Homo sapiens: one gene and its partners. The protein of the gene in region 1 interacts with the protein of each later gene in a pairwise test. Each region holds a gene or a part of one and is shown in the gene's direction. Other genes may lie near its edges. The genes, in order: TCL1B, MARK1, PLEKHA3 and MEIS3.

Region 1 (7,033 bases):
TGGTTATAGCAGATGTCAGCATTAGTGAACTGGAAGATAAACTAATAGAAAACATCAACATTGAAGCTCAGAGAGGAAAAAAAAGGAAACAAAACAAGAACAGAGCATAGAGAGCACGGTACACTTGTTTAAAGGGTCTGACAATGTGTAATTGGAGTCACTGAAAGAGAGGGAAAGGGAGGAAAAGAAAGGATGAGACGGGAATAGTTGAAGATACAATGGCTAAGACATTTCCTCAAATAGTGGATAAACTATTAGAGTTAAGTCAATTTATCTAGGTCTTAGATATAGTGTCAATGCACACAAACCAGTTGCATTTTTTTATAACAGCAACAAACATAATACATAATTTGAAATGACATTTAAAATAGCATCAATCAAATACTTAAGAGTTAATTTAATGAAATCAGAGAGAACAGTTAAAGACAACCCAAAATATGGAAGGATACACTATGCAATTGCTTCGGATCGTAAGTCTTAATATGTTGGAGATGTTAATTCTCTTCAAATATACCTATAGATTCAACACAATCCCAATCAATCTTAGCAGGCTTTTGGAGGTGGGGAGGATTAACAAGCTGATTTTAAAATGCATATGGATATGTAAAGGGAAGAGAATAGCTATATTAGGGTTCTCCAGAGAAACAGAATCTTACAATAAGATATAAAGACCTATTTTAAAGCTATAGTAATTAGCAATGTGGTATCAACACAAGGAGAGACAAACAGACTAATGGAATAGAAAAGTGTCCAGAAACAGACTCATACATAAATGTTCCCAGATTTATGACAGAAGTGATAATACCGTACAGTAGACAAAGCATAGTCTTTTAAATAATTGGCATTAATTGGATATCAACATGGAAAAATTAATCTAAATAAAATCTTTAGAAGAAAATAGTGTACATAAGCAAAACTTTCCTAAACCCTCATTCTTCAGTTCCGTGGTTGGGTTGACTTTCTTTTACCACTTTGCAAGTTTGCTCTGCTCACTGTCTGAAATAAGCAGAGCTGGAACTTGGATGTTCTTGTTTTTGTTATTATCTGCACAATCCCCATCCAGTCTTTTCTCTAGTAGTCATGATCTACTTGATACTAAGCCACTCTTTGGTTTTATCATTAGTTCTAACATTAAGTGCATACTTATGTCACTCCTTGTCTCAAACACTCATTGCTCATCATTCAAAACCAGCTGCTGGGACTGGCGTGTTTGATGCTTACAATGGAGCATCAATACCACCCCTGCCCCCACCACCACCACATTCTTATTCTTTATCATATGAGCTTGGATAATCCTCATTATTCCTGATCTCCAGACACACCCTGAATTACCTCTCCTCCAGGTCTACTCATGCTGCTTACTCGGTGGGACAACTTTGCCAGTTCCATCTAAACCATGCCCTGTCTAGGCTGTCTGCCTTTGGCATCTTGTCTGCCCTGCCATTTTGGCCCAGTACCTAGGAGGAGCTGAACAGAAATGTGCAGAGGTATCAGTGACTCTTACCCAGCCTTCCAAGCCCTGCACAGCGCCTCCTTGTTTGTGGTCTGGAATCCTTCCGGCAAGTGGGTGTCCAGCCTCAACGTCCCCAGGGCTTGGGGCTTGTGAAGGGCTCCCTCTGCTGGAGGAGGAGAGCATTGGGCCCAGGCATGAGTGCACCATCAGTACCAGGCAATCCTGGGAGCAATTCTGGAGAGATCAAAGTGGTTCTCAAAGACATTGGTGACACCTACCCCGGAGAGTGAATCCTTCAGGTCACAGGTACCAGAGATGGACAACTTGGCCAGAAGACATAGCCTTATCTCACTTATCTCAGACATGACATGGACAAAGACCAGCTGAAGGACCAGGAACCAAACTGTTGTCACCTGCAGCTCCGTGGCTTTTTTCATACCAGGTCCAAGGGTTGAGGGATGGGAGACCTGGCCAAAGAGGGTGATCGGTGAAGCAATCTATTTTCCACCTTGAGGCTAACTGGTAGTTATTTCTTTCTGCCTATGGAGACCTCTGCTTACCTTCTGACCACCCACTCATGGCAAGGTGTTCTCAGTCTCCATCTTCAGACCCCACCACCATTTCTACAGTAGCCACTGTGGATCTCCCTACTCCAGGTTCTGCCTCTTCCATGTAATGAGCCAAACTTGGCCAAGGCAGTCAACAAGCAGCATGCATGTTAGAGCCAGGAACAGCTGGGTCCATATCCTTCCTCTGCTACCCACTTCATTCAGGTTGCTAAGCCACTCAAGCCTCTGATACTTCATCTATGAAATGGGGGTGACGGTCTCTAGTTTATGGAGTTGTTGGGAGGTGTTAGTGAGATACCCTATGAAAAATGCCTGACATGGCATAGGGGCTCCCCACATATTAGGCAACCTTTACCTCCAACCCCACTGACAGCCACACACCTGCCCATCAGGGAGTGAGGTTGAGAATATCAAAATATATATTTGCAACAGAAAATGATAGAGATAAATAGCAATTGCATTGGGGTTACAAGGGTAGGAATGATGGATTCTGCCTGGGAGAGGGAACTAGTCTGAGAACATAACTATTGACCAGGGTATTTCAAGTATTCACTATGTGTCAGGCTTTAACACTATACACACAGCCTCATCTGATCCTCAGAGGAGTCCCATAGGGTAGGTACCTACAGCAAACAGGCTTCAGGGGGGCCCAGGAGACCAGGGGTCCCCATGATCCCTGCCTCCTGGTATTCATAACCTTGAGTAAGGATAGGACCTACCCCTGACCAATGGAATATGGCAAAGGTGACACACGTACGTGATTCCATGTATGGATCACATTATATGAGACTGTGATGTCCCTTGTCTTCCTGGCCCACTCCATTCCCACCCCAAGTGTTGGTTCCTTGGAAAAACACTGGGGATGGAGGTGGAATTGCTGTGAAAACAAGACTCAGTCCTCCACAGAAGCTGCCCAGGGAGTTCTTCAAAAGTGGTTATCCTACCTGCCATTTACACTGGATCAGGACTGTCCAGAAATCATTTTCACATCTCCCCAGCAGAATGGCATCATCTCAATACTAATCTTCACTTGAACTAGAAGAATCATGCTTGTGGTTTTCAAAAGGAAAAGGTTCCTATTCATGGTGCATTTAGAAGCAGCCCAGGGTGCTTATAGAACGGACCTGCTTCTTGCTATGTTCTTGAGCTTCTGAGGCCTCTTGACAAAGTCGAGCAAGTAAGACGACCAGGCCAAGTGGGCACTCTGGGCCCCATGGCCAAGGATGGGCTGGCCAGGTGGCCACGTGGCCTCCGGTGGCCTTGTTTCTGTGGGCTTTATCTGATCCTGAGCTCAGATGCTGATAGTGCACTGGCTTATTTTCTAAGGAGAGGGAGCTTGATTTGTGCAGGATGCGCCTTCACCAGATACCTCCAGGGGCAAGAGTCCACTGAGGTTACAGCGCCCCCCGCCCCCCATGCCTCTAAGCTCTAAGCTCAGAGAAGGGTCCCTGACACAGAGTCCTGTTAAAGGAATGGCCACAGGGATAGGAGAGACCAGGGTCGTGCATGCCAGCTCAGGATCTGGGGCAGGATGGTTGGCAGGGGGTCGTGGGGAGCAAAGGAGGGGAATCACCTGACAGAAAATTGGGCAGGGGTGCTCAGGGAGGAGGCTGCGGAGGGACTGGGACCAGTGGAAGGGAGGTGGAATAGGTCTTAGGAGCCAAATTCCTTGCAGAGGCCTGGGGTGAAGCCTGGGCAGCTCTATCCCCGGGAGCCGCCCTTTTGCCTCCAGCAGCTGCCGGTCCAGCCACAGCCCCTCCAGGAGACCCAGGCCGGGTTCCTAACTCCGCTGCTCTTTGGCCTCGTCCCTGCCTAGCCCCTGCTGCAGGTTGCTTTTTTCCCCCCTCCTCCTCCTCCCTCCTCCCTCCTCCCTCCTCCCCCTTCCTCCTCCTCCCCCTCCTCCCCCGACTGGCCCCGCCCCCACTGCCGGCCCCGCCCCCACTGCCGGCCCGGGCCCCACCCACGCCGGAGCTGCTCCATTTAAGGAGATTGCGCAGCTGGAAAGCTACACGTGTGAGCCTAGAGGCGGGTCCCGGTTGCAGACTTGCCATGGCCTCCGAAGCTTCTGTGCGTCTAGGGGTGCCCCCTGGCCGTCTGTGGATCCAGAGGCCTGGCATCTACGAAGATGAGGAGGGGAGAACCTGGGTGACTGTGGTCGTGCGGTTCAATCCCTCGCGTAGGGAATGGGCCAGGGCCTCCCAGGGCAGCAGAGTGAGTCCTGGGCACGAGGGGAGGCTGTGGGGAGGGCTGCGCACTGACCCCTGCCCGTGTGGGACCGCGGTGGGGGTCAGAGGGGGCCGTTCTCACCCGCACTGGAAAACTCACTTCTGTGCAGGTCTAGGAGCGCAGCAATGTCCATGCCCAGCCCTGGCCCCAGGAACACCCCCCGTAAAGGGACCACAGGCACAAGCTTATCCACATGAGATAATGTGGTCCTGCGTGGTGAAGCCGAGGCTAAGGTAGCTCAGGGCTTAGTGCCATTCCCAGTGCCTGCTGGGAAGGCCCACAAATGGGGCAGCTATTGAGCTGGGCTTTGTGGGATGAGTAGGAGTTCTCCAGGTCTAGAAAGGAGGCAGGAGTAGTATAAGCAAAAGCATTGCAGCCTGGAGGCACCAGGTGGGCCAACAGGATGAACATGACATTGGTGTCAGATTACTGATCTGCAAAATGAGAATAATATACCTCTGTGGCAAGCTAGTCACAGACATGCTCACATACATGGCTCACCGCCTGAATGGCCTGGGGAAGCATTTGACTGATAACAGATTCTGGAAATTAATTCAGGAGGCTTGGGTGGAGTCCTAGATTCTTTACTTTTCAAAAGCTCCCCAGGTGATAATGATAATGACTCAGGAAACGGCTGTAGATGAGGGCTTTAGATCACAGCCAGTCTTTGAGGGATGAAGTAAATACAGTAGCGTTTCTGGTGTGGGTGGCGGTGGGGAATTGATTCCAGGACCGACTGTGGATGCTCAAGTCCCTGATAGAAAATGACCTGGGTAGTAATTACATATAACCTCAGCGCATCCTCTACTATATTTGAAATCAGATTACTAATAACACCTAATGCTACACCTACACATCACTTCAAGCTCTGCTTTTGGGAACTTTGTGGAATTTCTTTTTTTCCCAAAATATTTTTAATCTGAGGTTAGTCGAATTCATGGGTGCAGTATCCATGGAAATGGGGGGCTGGCTGTACCTTAGTGTAATGTGGTAAAAGCATATCCGGATATTTAAAATGCCATTTAGGGCTGGGCGCGGTGGCTCACGCCTGTAATCCCAGCACTTTGGGAGGCCGAGATGGGCTTATCACGAGATCAGGAGATCGAGACCATCCTAGCCAACATGGGGAAACCCCGTCTCTACTAAAAATACAAAAAATTAGCCGGGCGTGGTGGTGGACGCCTGTAGTCCCAGCTACTCGGGAGGCTGAGGCAGGAGAATGGCGTGAACCCGGGAGGCGAAGCTTGTAGTGAGCCGAGATCGCACCACTGCACTCCAGCCTGGGTGACAGAGTGAGACTCCGTCCCAAAAAAAAAAAAAAAAAATGCCGTTTAGGTCTTCGTAAACAATTCACTGCCTGTTTGTTTGTTTTTTGAGAAAGTCTTGCTCTGTTGCGGCTGGAGTGCACTGGTGTGATGTTGGCTCACTGCAACCTCCACCTCCCAGGCTCAAGTGATTCTCATGCCTCAGCCTCCCGAGTAGCTTGGATTACAGGCGATTTTTTTTTACAGTTAATTTTTTTTGTTATTTTCAGGAGAGACAAAGTTTAATCATGTGGGCCAGGCTGGTTTTGAACTCCTGACCTCAAGTGATCTGCCCACCTTGGCCTCCCAAAGTGCTGGGATTACAGGTGAGCCACCTCGCCCAGCCAGTTCACTGACACTTTAAACAATATAACACATTTCCTAAAAAAAGTTCAAATAGGTTATTTCAAAAAATGTTGGTAGAGAACATGGAAAGGCTTTTCTGTACATACACTAAATAAAGCATGCAAAAATTGTGGAGCAAATATTTTAAGTTTTTCAAAAGCCTGAAAAAGTGTTAATGGAGGGCACTGTAAAATGGTGCAGCCACTATGGAAAACAGGATGAGGATTTCTCAAAGAAAGAATTACGGCATAATCCAGCAATGCCGCTTCTGGATATATACCCACAAGACTCTGAAGCCGGAACTTAAGCATGTATTCATACATCCATGTTCACAGCAGTATCATTCATACTAGCCAAAAGGTGGTGGCAGCCCCAGTGTCCATTGATAGATGAATGGGTAAACAACACAAACCATGAAGTATTCACCCTTAAAAGTCAGACACACGGATGAAACTTGGAGCCATTATACTAAATGAAATATGCCAGTCACGGAAGGACAGATTCTCTTGTATGAGGTACTCAGAGTGGTCTCATTCATAAAGTGGAATGGTAGCTGCCAGGGGCTGGAGGGAGTCGAGGATGGGAAGTTAATGTTAGTAACAGGTACGGAGTCTCAGTTTGGGAAGATAAAAAGTTCTGGAGGTGGATAGTGCCGACGGTTCCACATGTCAATGCACTTAATGCCACCAAACTGTACTCTTAAAAACAGTTGGCCGGGTGCGGTGGCTCACGCCTGTAATCCCAGCACTTTGGGGGGCCGAGGCGGGCGGATCACAAGGTCAGGAGATCGAGACCATCCTGGCTAACACGGTGAAACCCCGTCTCTACTAAAAATACAAAAAAATTAGCCGGGTGCGGTGGCAGGCGTCTGTAGTCCCAGCTACTCGGGGGGCTGAGGCAGGAGAATGGCTTGAACCTGGGAGGCAGAGCTTGCAGTGAGCTGAGATCCAGCCACTGCACTCCAGCCTGGGCGACAGAGCAAGACTCCGTCTCAAACAAAACAAAGCAAAACAAAAAAAACAGTTAAGATTTTTTTTTTTTTTAAATGATTCAGTGGAAATAGAATGGATTCTTCAAATAACTTAGCCACGGGTGGGATAAGGGACCTACTTAGTAAGTATTTTTTCCCCTTCTTT
Region 2 (7,028 bases), on another chromosome or scaffold:
CAAAAATATTAATTACATGCAACACAGAACAATTAGTAGTGTTTTCCTGGTTTTATTTCGCAGGTGGATATCCAGGTAAGGTCAGTGTTTTTATTTAAGATTGAATCCGTGTTTTTAGACTTGCCTACATGGATAGGCTGTTAATTTGCTGTGATATTTTATCATGTGCATGAATTGTTAGCATAACTTCTAAAAGAAATTGCTTATTTGGAAATTGGTGTTTATTTGCTAACTACAAGGTTAATGTATATATTTTCTAAATTGAGCGACTACTAGAATTATACATAATTACAAATTTGAAGTTGAATCTTGCTATTGATAATTATTAAATAGTTTTAACTTTAGATTAAACTAAACCAAAAGATAAATTATGACTTCAAATGAATCATGGCTGGGAATTGGAAGATTATGAAAAAAAAATTTCAAACTTTCACCTCATATTGCCTCTTGACAAAAATGAGTAGACGCTCAATAAATGATAAATTACATGCGGTTATGGTGAAAAATATGAGAAATAGTCTCAGACTGACTAGTAATAGAAAACTGTCATGGTAGAAGTTTGCTCAACAAGCTAATTTTAAAATAATTTTAGATATAGGTTTTCTTGATATATTTTTTACTTTTATCATTAAATCTCAACCTTCACTTTGTTTTGAGGGATCCAAGTGAAGGCGAAGCCAGTGGCAGAACCGACACCTCAAGGTGAGGAGCCACTATTAATACTTCGCTGCTAGGTCCCTGTGTATGAAAACGTACTTTTGAAATACTTACAGCACTTAATGATCATGAATAGATCTAATAACTAGATAGCATGCGTATTTTAGATTTTTATATTGGGGTGGGTTTTCATAATGTTACCTAGCATTCAAGTCAGTCAACTTTAAGTTTGTTTTCCAAACATGCATTTGAATTGTGTACTTGGTATAGAAATAGGCTTTCTGTTCTATAAAGTATGTCAAGCTAAAGAATTAATAGATTAAATGTACTGATATTTTTCTCACTAAAGTAATGTAACTAAAATTAGTCTGAGTCAAATAGCACAAATAACACAGAACAGGGAGATAATTACATGTAGGAAGATTTGATATTAGTAATATATTTTAGGTGATAATTCAGTGTTTGACCACATTTAAAAATTCTATCCAGGCATACTTTTGGGGATTTCTTTTTTTGACATTTCATGCTAGTTGTATATTCATTCTGGCAATGGGTTTCATACTTGAGCACAATCAGAATTACAGGGAAGGCTTGATAAAAAGGTTGCTGGATCCCACTCCCAGGGTTTCTGATTCAGGGGCCGAGGCAGGTGCCTGTGCATTTGCATTTCTATCAAGTCCCCAGGAGATGCTTATGCTGCTGTTCTAGGGACCACATTATGGACATGTTAGTACTTGTGTTCATATTTTACAAACGGGAAATTTAAGAAATGAAGACATTAATTTATTTTGAGTGTACCCAAGCATTAAGGGATGCAATGTAAATTTTACAACCAACAAGTATTCCACAGTATGAAAGGCTCTGGCTTCATTCAGGAACGATTGTGACCAGCTGAACACAAACCTCCAATTTGATTTCTACTTTTCAAGTTACTTAAAATATAAAACATAATTAACTTTGGAAAACTATAGCATTCCCATGTAGTCTTTTTAACAAACTGTGCTATATTTACATTTAGTAATAATAGTTGAAATGTTTCTTTGTAGAGTTAGGTACCTGAGTCACCACAGTAGGGAGCCACAGGGGAGCAAGACAAATATTCTTCACTTTCTTCTGCCTTTTATAGAAACATGGAGGACTTGTTCTTAGCCTCTCCCTCACTTAGTCTTCACTTTTGAGCCCCTCCTTGCATTTCATCCTATATTTCCACTAAATTTCCCTCTGAGACATTTAGTAGTGTGTGGCATTGCAAGTGGCCCTTAATAGTTGCATTTTTGTCCTTTTAATGTAACTATATAATTTTATTACATTATAAGAATTAGTAACTGATATTTTATAAATGTTTACACAATACTTTTCACATTCCCTTTTGTTTGGTTGTTGTTGGGTTTGGTTCTATTTTTGCTTTTGAACTGACTTATTGAATACTAACTATAAAGTACTTTCTGATCATTTAATTTTCACAACAACTAGGTGAAAATGCCTATTTTACAGATGAAAAAAAACAGCAAGGAACATAGGTGGGATCAAGCCAGCTATAATAAGGTTCTGTCATTTCAGGGAGATGAGGTGATACTGTGGTTAGAAGTATAGGTTCTCAGCCAGAGTGCATGGGTTTCAGCTATGTTCCACCACTTACCTTACTGTGTGGCTTTGGGGAAGTTACTTCAACTCTGCGTGCCTCCATTTCCTCACTCTAACTGCCTCATAGGGTTGTTCTGAGGGGTAAATGAGTAATTAATACATTTTAGGCACTTAGGACAATTCCTGCACCTAGTAAGTACTCAATAAATGTTAGCTGTTATTATATTAATATCCACATTTCCAGGAGCTTTCTACAATGGACATTATCAGTGGTAATGTCTGTGAGACCATGCAGAAAAATATTTCATTGTCTTAAGGTCATCTTAAGGTGGAATAGAAGGAAACTAGACTTAGAATAATATCCCTAAATTCTAGTCTTCACTTTTCAACTCATTAGCTCTATAACTTCAGAAAACTAATTTTTTTTTTTCTTCTGAGACAAAGTTTTGCTCTGTTGCCTAGGCTGGAGTGCAGTGGCACGATCTCAGCTCACTGCAACCTCCACCTCCCAGGTTCAAGCAATTCTGCCTCAGCCTCCCAAGTAGCTGGGATTACAGGCGCTTGCCACCACACCTGGCTAATTTTTGTATTTTTAGTAGAGACGAGGTTTCACCATGGTGGCCAGGCTGGTCTCAAACTCCTGAGCTCATGGTCCTGCCACCTTGGCCTCCCAAAGTGCTGAGATTACAGGTGTGAGCCACAGAAAACTAATTTTAAGTTTTCCAGCCATCAGTTCCATCTTTAAAATGAGTGCTCAGTCAACTGATCTCTCAGGACCCTTCCAGGATGCCGATTCCACCAGAATTATACATGTGACCTTGGTAAATGACTCTGGTTGGCTTGCAAGCCCTAAGAGGCCTGTGATGCAATGGCTTAGATTCAGTGGGCAAAAAGAGAAAAATAGAGAACACGATGAAGTAAATACTTTCCATACTTATTAATGGTCTTTGGAAATTTATTTTCTCTACGTATTCCTTTCCTTATTTTCTCAAGATTGCATAGTTTGCAGAGCTTTGGGGACTCAGATACCTAGGCTCAGACACCTGGAAATGAAGTAGATAATATATATAAAATTACACATGAATATATATCATACTATTGATACAAAATGTATATATATTAATTTAAAAGATGTATGCAGTAGATTATAAACTCCTTTCAAGGGACTTTTTTTTTCTTAAATCACATAAGTGAGATAGGTTAACAAGTTGCAATTATAACATCTCTATTTGGATAATTGTTCAAGAAATTTAATTACAGGATTTTCTGTATCACGAATAATCTATTAACTTTGATGAAGCTATGAAGGTTTCTTTCTATGACTGTTTGAAATAGGCTTTTTGTTTCCATATTACTTGGGGGATGCCTGCAATAAGTAAAATTCAGTGAGATTTAGTCATTTAACAAATATGTTAATTATTACTATGTACCCAGCACAGTTCTAGATGCCCGAGATATATCAGTGAATGAAATAGACAAAATTCCTTGCCCTCCTGGAGTTTACAGTCTAATGGTAGATTCAGACAACACCCTAACAAATGGGTTAAATAATATGTTAGAATGTGTAAGTGCTATCAAGAAAAATAAAGCAGGCTAAGGGGGCTTGGCCATGCTAGGATAGGAGTTAGGGTACAATATGAGCAAAGATTTGAAAAAAGCAAAGGAGTTAGCGTCGCAGCCATCTGGGGAGAAGCATTCATGACAGAGGGAACAGTCTGTGCAACAGCCTTGTGGCAAGAACATAACCCGTGTGTTCAAGGAGCAGCATGGAGGCCATTGTGTTCTGATAGGAGTGAGGAAGGAGAAAAATTCTAGGAAATGGGATTGGGGGTAGTAGGAGTTGGAATGGAAGTCATGGGGAACGTTGTAGACTGTTTTAAGGATGTCTTTAGTGAAATGAGAAGTCACTGGAGGACATTGAGATGTGTGGTATAATCTAACATCTTTACCTAATTGCAGTACAACATTCTTTCTCAACCTTACCAGGTAAACGAATTATCTTTCCCTCTGAAGTTACGACATTCCTCCTATCCAAAAAGGCAGAAAAAAGAAATTTTTTATATTTCAAAAATGTATATTTACAAATAGAATATTAGTGGTTCCTATTTTGTGTGTGTGCTTGAACAGAGAAATATGGAACTGAAGAAGGTATTAAGTTCTTCACTTTCAGTTGCAGACTTGTTTCCCTCAAACCACTTATATTTAAGAAAAATGCTATTTTAGATTGACAATATTAAAAGTCAAAACAGATGGCATCTTGGGGTGTGTTTCTGTAACAGCAAGATAACATAAATCTTTGCGTCCATCTGAGGGTGGTCTGCAAATTAGGTAGTGTTATTAGGCACTGAACTATGACCACTTAGATTTTATGTGTGTTTTGATCTCTTTGCTGAGTGAAATATTTGCTTTCATTCTTTCCCTTTGCCCTCTTGTTCCAGAAGTACATCAGGGGAACCAAAAGAAAGAGACAAGGAAGAGGGTAAAGATTCTAAGCCGCGTTCTTTGCGGTTCACATGGAGTATGAAGACCACTAGTTCAATGGACCCTAATGACATGATGAGAGAAATCCGAAAAGTGTTAGATGCAAATAACTGTGATTATGAGCAAAAAGAGAGATTTTTGCTTTTCTGTGTCCATGGAGACGCTAGACAGGATAGCCTCGTGCAGTGGGAGATGGAAGTCTGCAAGTTGCCACGACTGTCACTTAATGGGGTTCGCTTCAAGCGAATATCTGGGACATCTATTGCCTTTAAGAACATTGCATCAAAAATAGCAAATGAGCTTAAGCTGTAAAGAAGTCCAAATTTACAGGTTCAGGGAAGATACATACATATATGAGGTACAGTTTTTGAATGTACTGGTAATGCCTAATGTGGTCTGCCTGTGAATCTCCCCATGTAGAATTTGCCCTTAATGCAATAAGGTTATACATAGTTATGAACTGTAAAATTAAAGTCAGTATGAACTATAATAAATATCTGTAGCTTAAAAAGTAGGTTCACATGTACAGGTAAGTATATTGTGTATTTCTGTTCATTTTCTGTTCATAGAGTTGTATAATAAAACATGATTGCTTAAAAACTTGTATAGTTGTCTAGATTTCTGCACCTGAATGTATGTTTGATGCTTTGATTTGAAAATGTTCTTCCCTGTTATTTACATTCTGGTGGGTTTTTAAAATTCTTACCTCCATCATGCAATTTTGAAAATTGTGTCCAGAATTAAAAGTGCATAGAAATAGCCTTTACAATTGTAGCATGGACCTTTAAAAATTGTTTTAAAATCTTATTTAAATTTAAACCAGAAGCTGAAAAATAGATCAGCTTTATTATACACAAAATTATTACTGCTTATCTTTGCTCTTTTCCTTGTTATCCCGCAAGGTTTAGTTGAGAAGATACAAAATGTTTACAGTGTTGGCACTTAGAGTTTTTAAATTCAAGTACATGAAATTCAGTAATAGCATTGCCTTGAGCTAACTAGGAAGTACCGGGAAAAAAGTTAAATCTACATCAAGTTTCTTTTGAACTTTGAAGTGTTTTCTGACCCACTGCTAACTGTAGCAACAAAATTTAAAAGAAAAAAAACATACTTTATCTGGCTATTATAACATAAACTGTCACGTAGGTTTGCTGCCTTCAGAATACCGCAATTTAATTGCGGGAATATAATAATATTGGGACTGTTTCACAGCACAAACTCATCTTTACAGTGTTGATCAATGCATCAGTTAAGAAATAATGCCACCTCAGGAATTAACTGGCATTGGGAACATTTGCCTCATTCTCCTGCTATCCTCTTCATTCACCCCTGCCACTGTAATATCTATAAGTACTTAAGAGACTTGTGAGCAAAACATACTATTTATAACAGTATATGATTGATTTATGCTTATGTGGTTGTTCAGTTTGTTCCCATGTAACTCGTTTGTTTTAAATATTTTGCCAGATTTCTTGTATTTATTCCACATCATTATGCCTATAATGTGCCGCTTTGTGATTGGGCATTTGCCTACTTTTCTTTCATAATTAGTGATATATGCGATGTAAAACCACTAGTAAAGGTACATTTTAATACTTGTTATTTTATACTGAATTAGCCTTGGAGGTTGACTGTGCAATGTTATTTACTGTTGTAATTACTGTAATACCAACATATGGGCCCCATCTGCACACTCCTGAAAAACAGAAAGTGTATTCAAATTTTATCAGTTTAAAGAAAATAAAGCTGTGATAAATACTGTAATTCCAACCTACATTAGAAGGTCTAAGTGTAGGTGATGTGCCATTCCATAATGGCTTCCAGACTAGGGTGAATTTTATGTTCTGTACTGTACTGTGATGTAGCTTTCTTCTGTAACAGTTATGTTTTAAAATTAAGTGAGTTTTTTTTTTGCCTTAGCAAAGGGTGGTGTTTGAAAAAAAAAATGTGTAGCCCCTTTTTAACCTAGTGTTCATTCAAAAAAAAATTGATGCAAATCTTTATTCACTTTCACTGGTGCACACTGAAATTTTACTTGAACAGTTCTCATAATAAAGCACTTGTCTTTTGCTCTTTATCAGAATGTGAATTACCTGTTTTCTGGTACAAAAGTATTCTGTATGAGGAGTTTATTGTATGTGTTCTAAATTTAGTTGGCAAAGGGTGAAGCTGTGAAGGTTTTCAAGATTATTGAAACTATGAAGGTTTCTTGTCATTATGACAAGAAAGTTTAATCTTTTTATAGGAATTCCTGTCACTGAAATACGTTTTTAAAAAAATAGACTCATGTGTTTTCCACGGTAGAA
Region 3 (7,028 bases), on another chromosome or scaffold:
ATGGTCTCGATCTCCTGACCTCGTGATCTGCCCGCCTTAGTCTTCCAAAGTGTTGGGATTACAGGCGTGAGACACTGCGCCTGGCCCATTTTATGTATTTTTTAATACCATCTTACAGGACTGTGGTGTGGTGTTGAGTAAAACATAGTTTGACAATGTTGCTTTTTAGGACAATTGTAGATATGCTATAAACTGTTAATTAACAAGTATGTGTGAACAAAGAAACCAGTGTTTTGAGATGGATGTGTAGTGCTGTGTTCCTGAGGTTGATAGACAAAGGGTACACTTTTTTTTTTTAAGCTGTACTTTTTAGAGTCAAATGCAGTAAAACACCTCAGAGTTGCCTTGCTTCTGCATTGAACTTCTCAGGAAATCCCTTATGTTACAAATGCTCTGTAGTCCAGAGAAGTCAATGCGTATTTTACATATAAGAAACTAAAATAATTATTAGTTCTAGAGACAAATAGCATGGAAAGTAAGGTCAGACAATCTTCATGTTTTTTTTTTAAATAACATTGTTTATTTATTTATATGAAAAACTTACATTTATTTATATGAAAAATAAAGCTGAAAATTTGAGTATTCCAAAACAATTTAATCTGATCTTTGTAAGTGCTTTAATCTGATCTTTATAAGCACTTTATATAGTTAATCTCAATGAATTCATCTTAGAGTAAACTTGCATTTAACTTTATTTCAAGTTGTCATAAAAGTTCAGACAACCATCACTGGACCTACAGATTGAGTGATTATTATAGTGGGGATGTCCTTGGGTTAGTAAGCCTAAAGGAAGTAATTTCTGTTAAAGGAGATGTTAGTGGCCATTTGCATCTTAATGTCAATCTTATCAGATGTTCCCAGACTACAAACTGGGTGGGTCATATCTCTTAGCATTTCAACTGGTATTTCTCAGAGCAACTAGTGGCTCATGTTCCAAATATAGAAGGCATTTGCATAACATCAATGTTAGACCTGGGCTTGTTAGACTCTTGGGCTCATGTATACAAAAGCAACCACCCTAAACCTTTAGTATAATCTTTGTTTTTCTGCTACCATGTTAAACTTTGAAATAATCAGTTTTACTTGGCTGCCTCCCTTTATATTTTGATGGAGTAGTTGGATCTTCCAAATTATGTTTAGTATTTATCATATTTTTTAAATGTTCTGCTTAATTAGGTATTCTTTATTTTTTTAAATATATGTTTTGGAAATCCACTGAGACTTAGGGTTCTTCTTCTGAGTTCTTTAAAGTCTTGAATTATTAATGCTGTTTTCCATGAAAACCACACTTTAGAACATTTGTATATCAGCTACCTAAATAATTAATGATAAAGAGAAGCTTTGCTGCCAGACTCTACTACTGTCCTTTAAAAAAGAGATATTTATTAGAATATTTTGTGGCTTGCTAGATACTCCTTTTTTATCACATTTATATCTTATTTATAGTTATATACCCTGTTTTTTATATTTGTATACACACACATATATATGTATTATGTATAAAATTTGGTTTTCACTTTTGAAAAAAGAATCCAGCATGTTTTTGGTGTGTGTTGAAAAAGATTCCAATTAATGGTTATTAGGGAGAAAGCTTGATGTTGTACTAATTATGTTGCTTGAGTCTGTGAAAGATTAAATTTTTTTTTGCCAGTTATCTTTTTCTCTGAGTAAATTTATGTTTATTATGATAATAGTAAATTAGAGCTGCATGATTCTACTTGACATATGGATTATGCTAATTTTTTTTTTTTTTTCCAAAATTTCTAGATGAAGCGTTCTGTCAGCCACCCTGGTTCTTGCAGTTCAGAGAGGTAAAAGAACCTTTTCTTCTGACTAAGTTCTCTCAAATTATATCCATCTAGGGAAGTTCTTTGGGCCTTTAACAAGTGGTGTGGAATGTAAACTCTGTATGGGTTAGGTCTGGTTCAAAACCAGCATTTTATCTCTCAGTATTTATCTCCTAGTATTTAGTATAAGGGCCTGGCCTCAGTAGGTAGTCAGTAAAGAAAAAAATGAATGAATTAACCAGCAAGGTAAGCACGTTGCCAGCCATTTTACCTTTTTTAGATGTTTGAAATGCAGTCATATATTGAAGAATGACTTTTCCATCAATGATAGACTGCATATGTGACAGTGGCCTCATAAGATTATAATACCATATTTTTACTGTACTTTTTCCATGTTTAGGTATGTTTAGATACACAAATACCATTGTTACAGTCACCCACAACATTCAGTACAGTAACATGCAGTAGAAGTTTGTAGCCTAAGAACAATAGGCTATACCACATAGCCTACATGTGTAGTAGGCTATACTAGCTAGTTTTGTGTAAGCACGCTCTGTGATGTTTGCACAGTGACAGAATCACCTAGCGATGGATTTCTCAGAATGCATCCTTGTCATTAAGAGACGCATGACTGTATATCAAGTGATGGTTAGACAGAAGTACATTTTTGATGTGTTGAGACTCCACAGCTAGGGCTCATTTTACCTCAGCTGTTTATAGCATCATCTATTCATGCTGAGCTGTTGTTTCATTAAGAGAGAAAGATCTTGCTGAAGAGAGAAAACCACTTGATATTTTAAAGTACATATTCATATCAATACGTTTAAAAATTTTACCTTCTGGATAGATCTTACCAAAATGCTAAGTTGTTAAACTATTATTTTGTTAGGTAATAGTCCTTTAAGTTGCTATGGTTGTCTTATTTAGTTCTTTGGAAAGTGATTTAATTATAGTGACATTGGCATTTATTTCTCTATATTTGGACTGTTAAATGCTGTTTTGTCATGTTTTAATTTTTTCCCCTGATGATTGTATAATCTTTGATTAAACTGTCAAATACTCAGAGGAATCCAATGATGTATATATCCAACCTTGTCAGGGAATCAAGAGTCCCACCAACTGAATTTTCCAGAAAAATGGAAGCTTAATCAATTTTTGACCAACTTTTATTTTTATGAAAGAAATTTTTCTATCCTTTCTACCTCATAAAATAATAATTTTAAAATCTTATTTGTTTCCTGATGAATCAAGGTTGTCATTAAGTACAGTAAAGTTGGGCTGTTACAAAAATAGTAGCTGAGATGCTGTTAGGTGGTGGTGATTTGCTTCTCTGTTTAAATTTTTCAGACAGATTTTTAAAAGAGTTTTTCTAGGCCCCTTTTTGCCATCTTTATCTTCTCTTGCTGTTGTCAGTGAGTCTACCTCTAGCTCTATGAACTCCTTGCCCATCTCTTTCAGTCTGCTGGTTTTGATCAGATATGGATTGACTTAAAATACATGCATTCATGAAACCTATGACTTCTAGTTTTCAAACATTTGTAAACCGACTGATATGTCTGCTCTCTGGAGTCTCCCCTACAGAAGTCACTACTTCTTCATTGTACCCCTCTTCCTTTTAGTTCAGCTCAGAAGCCATATTCTCCAGGTTACCAGCTGTCTTCTAAATGGGTTCACTTGTTTTTGACTTCTGAGTAGAATGTTGCTAACACGGGACGTTGAGCATAAAAATAATTCTTTTTTCACTTAAAGAGAAGTCATTTAAAATTCCAGTTGAGTGTGTTTTTGTTTATGTAAGGCCTTACAATTTAATGCTTTTTACTTAATTTGCAGGAGTAGCCACTCTATAAAAGAACCAGTATCTACACTTCACCGACTCTCCCAGCGACGCCGAAGAACCTACTCAGATACAGATTCTTGTAGTGATATTCCTCTTGAAGACCCAGATAGTAAGTGACATAGATTCTGTCTCTTTCTTTGGCATATTCAGCAAAATTACTGTGGGGCTCTGTAATTTCTGGAAATGAAGTATACTGACTGAACATTGTACTTTGTTTCTTTGATTCCTTAATTCAGAGGTAAGCAAACAGCGCTCAATCAATGAAAGCTCATATATCCCCTTACAAACAGGTTTGTTACTAACTAAGGAGTGCTGAGGATTGCTTTGTAAATATCGTATCTCAGATATATATTTATAGAATATCATGATCTTTTACCACCACTAGGACTTAAAAAACATTTTAGAAGAAGGCATGAATTGTTAGCAGGATTCTAGGGGAAAATAAAGGCAAGTTCCAAGTTCATATAAAAGTCAGCATTGTTACTTTACTAAAATACCTAGAAATGGCTAAGGAAAAGAATTTTGTCTGGTAGTCACAGTGAATTATAGTAGCATTCATTCCTCTACCTTTTTCTTCCTTATTAAAGAGGCAGCATACTGTGATTGAATGTTTTTAGGAAAGGTTTTGTGATTTATGTTAAAATTTTTAAATTTTTCTCTTCAGAGAAGAAGCTTTGAAAGTGTGTCAGAATATCTAGTAAGATAGTAGTGACCATGATTTGCAGTGAACACAAATATAGTCTTATTATTACATCTCCATTAATAGACTTATACTCTCCAAGTCTCTACTATTTCTCAGGAAGCATGTGGGATAGAAACTATGTACAATTTCCAATTAAGGAACAGGTCGTGTTCCAATAGTTAGTTCATTTGTAAGTCAGTTGTTTGGAAAACAGATTTTATTTTTCTTGTGGAAATGACATGATAAGTGGTGGTTAGCTCTTTGGATAGCTAACCATTCTTTGGAAGAGCCCAGTGAATTCATAGTATGGCTGAAATGGGACAAAACAATGGTGTATTTCTAGCATTTGAGTGTATTGAAAACACTGATTAAGCTGGAGTTGTTTTATGTAACCAGAAAGTTAAACAGGTTTAGTTCATACATATGGCAATTTTAAAAAGGATTGCTGGTCATTTTTGGATTTTTAGGAGTTGATAGAATCTTTTTTTTTTTTTAATGCCCACTTTTTTTTTAAACTGAATTAATCATCTATTTATTAATATATGGCACTATTCTATGCTCATTAACATTTTGAATTTAAATTGAGATGTGGGTGGAGAAATGAAGGAAAGAAACCGGGAAGGGGAAGGGAGAAAGAAACTTTCTTGGGCCAATCAAGCAAGACCTGGAAGAGAAGAGGAGGAGAGGAGGAGGGTTAAAGAGGTTGAGTATGTGAAAAAAGTTATCTGAGGCAGGTAAGATAGACTCTGATTCTCTTTATTCTTTATGCCTTTTACACATGACTCTTAATCCAGAGTTCATGAAGGAGTTCTGTATGCTACCTTGTAGTTTTAAGTGCGACATCTTTTTTTTTTTTTAAGGGGATCATTTGTGATTACTAAAATAATTTTTTTAAAGCCATCCATTTTTCTTTAGAATTCTTTTCTTCTAGTTACTCTAGTCCTGAATATTTGAAAACAATTTTCAAAAGATCTAGGTGTACATGCTCTATTATATTTAGCATCCCCCAGTTTAACTGTTATGGACTGTAACAAAACTAGTCTCACACACACACACACGCACGCACACACACACACGCGCATACATATAGTTCACTTCTCTAGAACATCTTTAAATTAGCAAGTATAGACTAGGTCAGAAATTTTATCCTTAGATTTTTTCCTGTTTATACTAGTTTAGTGTTTCAATTAGCTGACAAAGCAAAGATTGAATTAGTGCTCTTTCCAGAAAGTATATATTTTGCAATTGGCAGTCTTAGTTGAAAGTTGTTACTCAAAAATATTCTTCTTGTGAGATGCAACTGCTTCTATTTTCTTTAACAAGCTTTTTCAAAAAGTATGAAAGTAATAAATGATGATGGTAAACTCAAACTATATATATAAAGGTACAACTGCCTTAGAACAGGACTATGCCAGTGTAGTCAGCTGTGTTAACATGGAGTTGCAGTGATAGTTCTGTGAGCTGCATTACAAATGGAGAAATGGGATCTTTCAGTATGAGGTACCTTGTCAGCTTTGCTCAGAAAGTCTTAGAATGAAAAGAGGAATACCTGAATTTAGTCCTCGTTCTGTTACCAATTGTGTGATCTTGGGTAAGGCATGTATCCTTTTATGGGTCTTGGTTTCTTTGCCTAGGAACAAGGAGGATATTAACAGCATTAAAATAGGCTGAAAAAGCAATAGTTAATTAATAAAGATTAAATTCAATTCAGCAAATATTTATTGACTACCTATTATGTGCCAACCATGATTCTAGCAGTGAACAAAACAAAAATCTCTACTTCAGGCAATTTCATCATTTATCTTATGAATTCTGATGTTTCTCCTTGTGGCTGTTGATACTCTAGTCTAAAAGTTAAGTTTTCCTGCATGAAACAAACAAGGAAATACAAAATTAGCCAGAAGCTAAAGGAATTTCATGTCCCTGAACAGGAAATTTAAAATGTTCTTTCACAGAGGACTGGAGTTAATATTGACAGGATGTTTAACGTTTTTATCAATGTCTTCATAGGACCTGTTCACTGTTCAAAAAATACACTTAATGGAGATTTGGCATCAGCAACCATTCCTGAAGAAAGCAGACTTATGGCCAAAAAACAATCTGAATCAGAAGATACTCTTCCATCCTTCTCTTCCTGAAGAAACTGAAGTGTCCAACTTCCTCTAAGTATTGCTATGCAAAAGCTGCTGTAATTAAACTATTGTTATAGGGAGTAGTTTTTTCCCTTAGGACTCTGCACTTTATAGAATGTTGTAAAACAGACAAACAAGAAAACAAACCACATACTTTTGAAGTGTATTTTATCTTTATATAGTTTGTTTGCAAGAGTATTTTCCTAATAACTTCACAGTATGAATGTGCATCTTTTTTTTTTGAACAAATGATGGTGTAACATTTTGACATCCATAAGGACAAATGTAGATATTTTTCTTAAAAACTCTGAGGGGACTGACAGCATGGTCAGGGTGTATTGTAGCTTATAAACATGAAATCTTATAAGGTTTCAGTTTGACAGAAGTGTGATATATGTAACTTGTGCCATGGACCAAATGGTCACTTTACCACAGCTAAAAATGAGTTACGATAGCAGCTTGATGGTGATTGTATTGTATTCCTTTAATCAAAAAGGAAACACAATATTCTAAGTATCTTTAGCCCAAATACCATGACATATTGAGCATCTTTAAATAACCAGACTGTATTGTCCTTCATATGTGAAGTT
Region 4 (6,932 bases), on another chromosome or scaffold:
TGTGGATTCGAGACCATGAGGATAGTGGGTCTGTACATTTGGGGACCCCAGGTCCATCCAGTGGGGGCCTGGCCTCCCAGAGTGGGGACAACTCCAGTGACCAAGGTGAGAATCTTGGGAGGTGGAAGGGAAACATGGGAGTCAACCAGAGGATTGAAGTTAGATCGCAAGTAAGACTTGTAGAGGGGCAGAGATGGCTGGGGTGTGGAGTGTTGTCTTGGGGGAGAGTTCTGGGGCCCTCTGGTCCTCCACTCTTCACTACCCACACACACAGCATGCCTGCCTTCCCTCAGGAGACGGGCTGGACACCAGCGTGGCCTCTCCCAGTTCTGGTGGAGAAGATGAGGACTTGGACCAGGAGCGACGGCGAAACAAGAAGAGGGGGATCTTCCCCAAGGTGGCCACCAACATCATGCGAGCCTGGTTGTTCCAGCACCTCTCGGTGAGAGCCCTGCTGCCCAGGTGCAGGGTGGGAATGGAGAGAGGGAGAAGGGTGGACCACAGAGACCGAAACCCCAGAGAAACCCAGAAGTGGGAGAAAGACGGCAGGAAATTTTTCGAGACTCTCATGGAGGTGGAGAATTGTGACAGGAGCCAGCAGCACTGAGTGTCACCTGAGTGCAGGTGCCGCTCAGGACACTTAACTCACTAAGTCCTCCCCGAAAACTGTCCATTAACCCGCGCATCAATCATCCACCTGCCCACCATCCACCCAGTGTACCCTCGGAGGGAGGGGCTACTATTATCTCCATTTAACAGGTGAGGAGGAGACTGAGGAACAGAGAGGTTAGGAGACTTGCCTAAGGTCACACAGCCAGAAGTGGATTCAAATGCAGGCAGTCTGGCCTTAACCACCGCACCATACTGCTTCAAGGACAGAGGAGAAAAATAGAGCCAGGAAGAGGCTAAAACAGAGAGACACAGAGATTCGGGGAGGACCAAGTCAGAGCAAGATGGAGACAGGGAGAGGCCGAGTCACAGAGGGACAGAGACAGACAGAAACTCGGAGGCAGGGACGGACTGAATCCCAGAGAGAGAGAGAGATACAGACAGAAACACACACACACAGAGATAGTGAGTCAGAGAGAGAATGTGAGAGCCACAAAGAGAGAAATGGAGGGCCAGACACAGTGGCTCATGCCTGTAATCCCAGCACTTTCGGAGGCCATGGCAGGAGGATCACTTGAGCCCAGGAGTTCGAGACCAGCCTGGGCAACATAGCAAGACCCCATCTCTAAAAAAAAAAATTAGCCAGGCATGGTGGCACACACCTGTGATCCCAGCTACTCAGGAGGCTGAGGCCGGAGGATTGCTTGAGCCAGGGAGATTGAGGCTGCAGTGAGCCATGAAGGCGCCACTGCACTCCAGCCTGAGTGACAGAGTGAGACCCTGTTTAAAAAAAAGAGAGAAAGAGAAAGAAAGAAATGGATAGGGAGGGCTGGGTGCGGTGGCTTATGCCTGTAATCCCAACACTTTGGGAGGCCGAGGCGGGCGGATCACGAGGTCAGGAGATCGAGACCATCCTGGCCAACATGGTAAAACCCTATCTCTACTAAAATACAAAAAATTAGTCGGGCATGGTGGCGCGCACCTGTAGTCCCAGCTACTGGGGAGGCTGAGGCGGGGAATCCCTTGAACCCCGGAGGCGGAGTTTGCGGTGAGCAGAGATCGCGCCACTGCATTCCAGCCTGGCGACAGAGCAAGACTCCATCTCAAATAAATAAATAAATAAATGGATAGGGAGAGGGCCACACAGAGACTCTGACAGATTCAGAGAGGGAGGGCCTGGGCTTTGCTTCCCTCCCCGACGCCAGTGAAGCCCCTCCCCCACGCCACAGGAGCCCCCTCCCCCAACACAGTCTCTCTAATCAGAGCTGGCCAGTTAACCTCTAATTGCTGGAACAGGCGGGGGCTGGCAGGCATGTAATTGCCCCAAGCCTGAGGCTCCCTTGGTCTCCATCCTGGGGAGCGCAGAGACGCTCAGAAGCGCCGGTTCTCCCAGACGTCTGCCTGGGCCTGGGCTCCCCATCCCCCGGACCCCGGTGGGCCAGACCTTGGGGTTCAGACTGCGGCCGGCCAGGCAGGCAGAGTGACTCTTGCTGGTGGCTGCAGCACCCGTACCCCTCGGAGGAGCAGAAGAAACAGCTGGCGCAGGACACGGGGCTCACCATCCTGCAAGTCAACAACTGGTGAGTGGCCCAGGAGGGCCCGCGGGCCGGCCCGGGGCGAGAGCCCGGGCGCTGTCCGCGGTGCTGACGGAGGCCCCGAGCCCCGCAGAGCCACTGCCCCTGCTCGCCCCGCTCTGCCTCCCCCGCCGCTGTCCTCCGGCCCGCTCTGTGTTCGTCTTGGCCTCTCTCCCACTCCCTCTTTTCATTCCCCTCCGTTTCCATGACCGCCTCCCAGGTTCATTAACGCCCGGAGACGCATCGTGCAACCTATGATCGATCAATCCAACCGCACAGGTACAGGGGGAAGGCGGGGACGGAGAGCCTGGGGTTCTTAGGAGGGCGTCAAAGCCGGGTCCCGGGCTTCCTGGGGCTCAGCCTGCACCTCTGAACCCCCTTCGCAGGGCAGGGTGCAGCCTTCAGCCCAGAGGGCCAGCCCATCGGGGGCTATACCGAGACGCAGCCACACGTGGCCGTCCGGCCTCCGGGTAAGCCTCGCCCCCTTAGCTAGGCCCCGCCCCTGCGCACCATGACCCACCTGTAAAACAAAGATGCCCACCTGAGATTCAATTCAAGCGGAATACAGTGTGTCACTTGCCTAGTGAGAAGCAGGTGATGCCAAGGCAGATTTCCTGGTCCCCCATCTTTTCCTTACAACCTCATTTCTTCCAGACTTCAAGCCCAATACCTCGGAAGGCTCCACTTTTTCTTAAAGGGCCAGCACCTTCTTATGACTCAGTCTATCCTGGTAGAGGGATCCCCTGGTGTAGGAAGGGGTGAGGGAGACTTAGAGGCATCTGGGGGTGTCTCTGAAAGACGCACTTACCCTCCTTTTTTTTTGTCTTCCAGGATCAGTGGGGATGAGTTTGAACTTGGAAGGAGAATGGCATTATCTATAGAGGCTGATGCAGGAGAGGTGTGAGGGTCTAAGGGCTGGGGATTGTGCAATTCTCAAACCTCCATTAGACCTCAGGACTCCAAGAGTGGGCACTTCCAGAGTAGTGGGTCAGCCTGGGTCCCTGTACTGTGGGTTCTCTGAGGCTTGATGGGAAGATATTCATCCATCTGTCCGTCCGTCCATCCATCCATCCATCCATCCATCCTCCTCCTCCATGTATCCATCCATCTACCCACTCACTCACCCATCCATATCTTTATCCATCCGTTACTCAATTACTCATTCACCCGCAATCCATCCATCCAAACCTAGTCCACCCACCTACCCACTCATTACCCATCTGACCACACATTCACCCACTCACTCCATTCATCTCTCCACTCGCCAACCCACTCATCCATCTACCTCCACACTGACCAACCACCCACACATCTACCCATTTATCTGTGCATTCACCCACCTCCCTACCCAGGCTTCCACCCACCTACCCATCAACTCACCCATCCATCCACCCACACATCCCATTATCCATATATCCACCCACCCACCACCCACTATCCATCCATCCATCCATACCTACATACACCCATTCATCTATGATACATCTCCAAACATAAACTGAGCCCTTGGCTGGGCACGGTAGCTCACGCCTGTAATCCCAGCACTTTAGGAGGCTGAGGCAGGTGGATCACCTGAGGTCAGAAGTTCGAGACCAGCCTGGCCAACATGGTAAAACCCTGTCTCTACTAAAAATACAAAAATTAGCCAGGTGTGGTGGCATGTACCCATAGTCCCAGCTACTCTGGAGGCTGAGGCAGGAGAATCACTTGAACCCAGGAGGCGGAGGTTACAGTGAGCCAAGATCAACCTGGGCAATAAAGTGAGACTCCATCTAAAAAAAAAAAAAAAAAAAAATTGAGCCCTCACTCCATCCTGACATGCCTCAGGTAGGGTCTGGATCTTGAGAAGATTCTGGTCTTGTGGGGAAGTTGGCAACCCCAGTGACAATCCAGTGTAACAGTTCAAACAATAAAACGTAGTTTCCCCATAGGAGGGAGTCATCAGCTATCTCTGGGGTATCAGGGAAGATTTCCTAGAGGAAGTGGCCTCTGGATGGGGCACTGAAGGATGAATAGGAGTCCACTGGGCAGAGTAGGGAGTAATGTGGAAGGGGGGCATTATTTGACTTTCCCAGGCCTTGAGTCTTCTGTGGCCTGGTATGATGGCGGCACTTTAGAGCATCTTCTCATTTAGTCCTTACAACGATCCCGAAAGGGGAGACTATTAACAATTTTAATTTCATAGATAAGAAGACTGAGGTTCAGAGAGAAGAGGTCACTTGCACAGGTCTACCCTGCTCACAAAAGCAGAGGGAACAGCATGTGCAAAGGCCCAGGGTAGGGAGGCAGCCTAGAGTTTCCAAAGCCCAGATCAGAGTTTGACTCTCTCTGGATTAAACCATTTGTGGCTCCCTAGTGCCATCTGGACAAAGTCCTAACTCCTTAGTTTAGCATCCATCTGTCCATCCATCCCCTGAGCCCCTCTGTGCCCAGCCCTGTGCTGGGTAATGTTGGGGACACAACAGTGACCATGACAGCCTCAGCCCTGCCCTCATGGGGCACAAAGTCTAGTGAAGGGGACAGACCCATCCCCAGATGGTGATGCCCCAGAACGGGCAGGGCTGGGATGGTGAAGCCAAGGAACTGGAGGAGCTCACAGGGGGCGGGTGTTGGACCTGGGATGGGGGGAGGTGTTTAGAGAGGGCTTCCTGGAGGAGGGGGCATCTGACCCAGACTAGAGGATTCAAGGAGGGCTGCCTGGAGGAGAGGACTTTGGAGGTGAGACCAGCAGAATGGGAGGAGTGAAGCAGGAGAGGAGCATCTGCAGAGGGAATAGCACGTGCCAAGGCCAGGAGAGCTTGGAAATCTCGTGGCTGTGAGACAGCCCCAGCCCCCTACACACAAGGAGGAAGTTCTCTTTGGACTGGGTTGAGGCAGGCGGCCGGACAGGTGGCTAATGAATTCAGGGCCAGCAGAAAAGCCCTGGGGATGAGAGTGGAGGCCTGCACAGGGCTTATGCATGGAGGCGGGTGCTGGAGGCCGAGCCTGGGAGAGAGATGGGCAGGCGTATCCAGGCCAGGTAGGGCAGTGGGCGACTCAGCTCTTTCATGGCCAAGTGTGGGTAGGGATGGTCTGGGGTGAGTGTCAGGGGACCTTTGGGGTCAGTAGTGATGGAGGGGTCTTCTCATCCCACTGCCTGGCTGCCCAGTGGGCTCTTTTCTCTGCTCCTTTCTGTCTCCTTTTCTGTCTCTCCACTCCTGATCATGGCTCACTGTAGCCTCGACCTCCCCAGGTTAAGCGATCCTCTGGCCTCAGCCTCCCAAGTGGCTGAGACTACAGGCGTGCGCCACCATACCTGGCTAATTTTTATTTTTATTTTTGTAGAGACGGGTCTCGCTTTGTTCCCCAGGCTGGTCTCGAACTCCTGGGCTCAAGCGATCCCCCTGCCTCTGCCTCCCAAAGTGTTGGGGTTACAGGCATGAGTCACCGCGCCCAGCCTCCTGTCTCTCTTTCTCTCTCTCCATTTCGTCTATTTCTTCATGACTTCTTCTCTCTCTTCCCATGTCGTTCTCTCTGACTCCCTCCAGGTCTGTCTCTGTCCTACTCTGCCTGTCTCTCTCCTTGTTCTCTGTCTCTGTCTGTAGGTCTCTCCCTCCCTCACCTCCACTCTGATTCTCTGTCTCCCTCTTTCTCGTCACTGCGTCTCTTCTCTCTGTGACCCTCCCACATCCCTGTGCCATTCCCCGCCAGCCACTCTCTCTGTGTCCCCCTCACATTGGGGCTGATGAGGCCTGCACAGATGGGCTGGGGTGGGGCCAGGCCCCCTGCCCGCTCCTGACTTGGCCTCTCCTCCCCTCTCCACAGACCCAGCCTCCGGCTGTGACCCCCAGCCTCACACCTGCCTCTGGTTCCCGCCTGGTCCTCCAGCTTCAGGACCCCACCTCCAAAGGCCCCTCTGCTCAATGCCTACCTCCCTAGGGCCCTGCTGGGACATGGGGGCCTGAGTGCCCATCCAAGGGCTCTCAAGGACACCGGCAAGGCCTCCAGGCCCTGAGCCCCACTTCTGCCTTCACCTCTGCCTGGGACCCGAGCTGGGCTCCTGGGCCTTGGTCCCCAGAAGATGGCGGCTAGGGCCTCGCCGCCAGGACAGAGAAGGGACGGGGTGGCTGGGCAGTCAGGGAAGGAGGGTCGCCCGGATCCGACATTTTGGAGAGATTCCTTCACTCTCCTGTCCCCCCTACCTCCCTTCTCTAATTTCTTCTTTTTTTTAATGATAAAGTCTTAAAAACACGGAGCCACCAACTGGAGTTCTTGTGTCTATCCCAAGATTTCAAATTCTTACCAATTTGAAGCTCGTAAATCACGAATAAGAATACTGATTGGCCGGCTGCAAGCACGATGGCTCACGCCTATAATCCCAACCCTTTGGGAGGCCAAGGCGAGTGGATCACTTAAGGCCAGGAGTTCAAGACCAGCCTGGCAACATAGTGAGACCCCATCTCTACGAAGCAAGCAAACGAATTGCTTGGGCATGGTGGTGCACGCCTGCAGTTTCAGCTACTTGGGAGCCTCCCAGAGTGCTGGGATTACAAACGAGCCACCAGGCCTGGCCAAGACTCCACCTCTTAACTAGAGGGAGCTGCAGAATTCCTGCAAGAGATGTGTGTGCAGGGGAGAATGAAGACTCAGGGCCACGCCTGCGTCACTTCACCAGCTGTGGCTGTCCAATCACGTCCTCTGTCCCATGGGAAATGAGCAGGTTAGGCAGGCACACCCTCACTTCCAAGGCTTCCGGACGGACGTGGGTTT

The links.
Region 2: the proteins of TCL1B (region 1) and MARK1 interact in binary tests that used the Homo sapiens proteins (3 or more experiments, as listed by UniProt).
Region 3: the proteins of TCL1B (region 1) and PLEKHA3 interact in binary tests that used the Homo sapiens proteins (3 or more experiments, as listed by UniProt).
Region 4: the proteins of TCL1B (region 1) and MEIS3 interact in binary tests that used the Homo sapiens proteins (3 or more experiments, as listed by UniProt).

What each region holds. Positions count from the first base shown.
Region 1 is NC_000014.9:95,682,397-95,689,429, forward strand, and holds the start of TCL1B (T-cell leukemia/lymphoma protein 1B), read left to right. Parts: upstream 1-4,029; 5' UTR 4,030-4,071; coding exon 4,072-4,233; intron 4,234-7,033. UniProt on the Homo sapiens protein: Enhances the phosphorylation and activation of AKT1 and AKT2.
Region 2 is NC_000001.11:220,657,133-220,664,160, forward strand, and holds part of MARK1 (serine/threonine-protein kinase MARK1), read left to right. Parts: intron 1-657; coding exon 658-702; intron 703-4,679; coding exon 4,680-5,034; 3' UTR 5,035-7,028. UniProt on the Homo sapiens protein: Serine/threonine-protein kinase. Involved in cell polarity and microtubule dynamics regulation. Phosphorylates DCX, MAP2 and MAP4. Phosphorylates the microtubule-associated protein MAPT/TAU.
Region 3 is NC_000002.12:178,497,444-178,504,471, forward strand, and holds part of PLEKHA3 (pleckstrin homology domain-containing family A member 3), read left to right. Parts: intron 1-1,767; coding exon 1,768-1,811; intron 1,812-3,617; coding exon 3,618-3,733; intron 3,734-6,316; coding exon 6,317-6,444; 3' UTR 6,445-7,028. UniProt on the Homo sapiens protein: Plays a role in regulation of vesicular cargo transport from the trans-Golgi network (TGN) to the plasma membrane.
Region 4 is NC_000019.10:47,402,609-47,409,540, reverse strand, and holds the end of MEIS3 (homeobox protein Meis3), read left to right. Parts: coding exon 1-105; intron 106-293; coding exon 294-442; intron 443-1,905; coding exon of another isoform or gene 1,906-2,112; coding exon 2,113-2,189; intron 2,190-2,403; coding exon 2,404-2,462; intron 2,463-2,569; coding exon 2,570-2,653; intron 2,654-3,014; coding exon 3,015-3,064; 3' UTR 3,065-3,081; exon of another isoform or gene 3,082-4,113; intron 4,114-5,987; coding exon of another isoform or gene 5,988-6,127; 3' UTR 6,128-6,417; downstream 6,418-6,932. UniProt on the Homo sapiens protein: Transcriptional regulator which directly modulates PDPK1 expression, thus promoting survival of pancreatic beta-cells. Also regulates expression of NDFIP1, BNIP3, and CCNG1.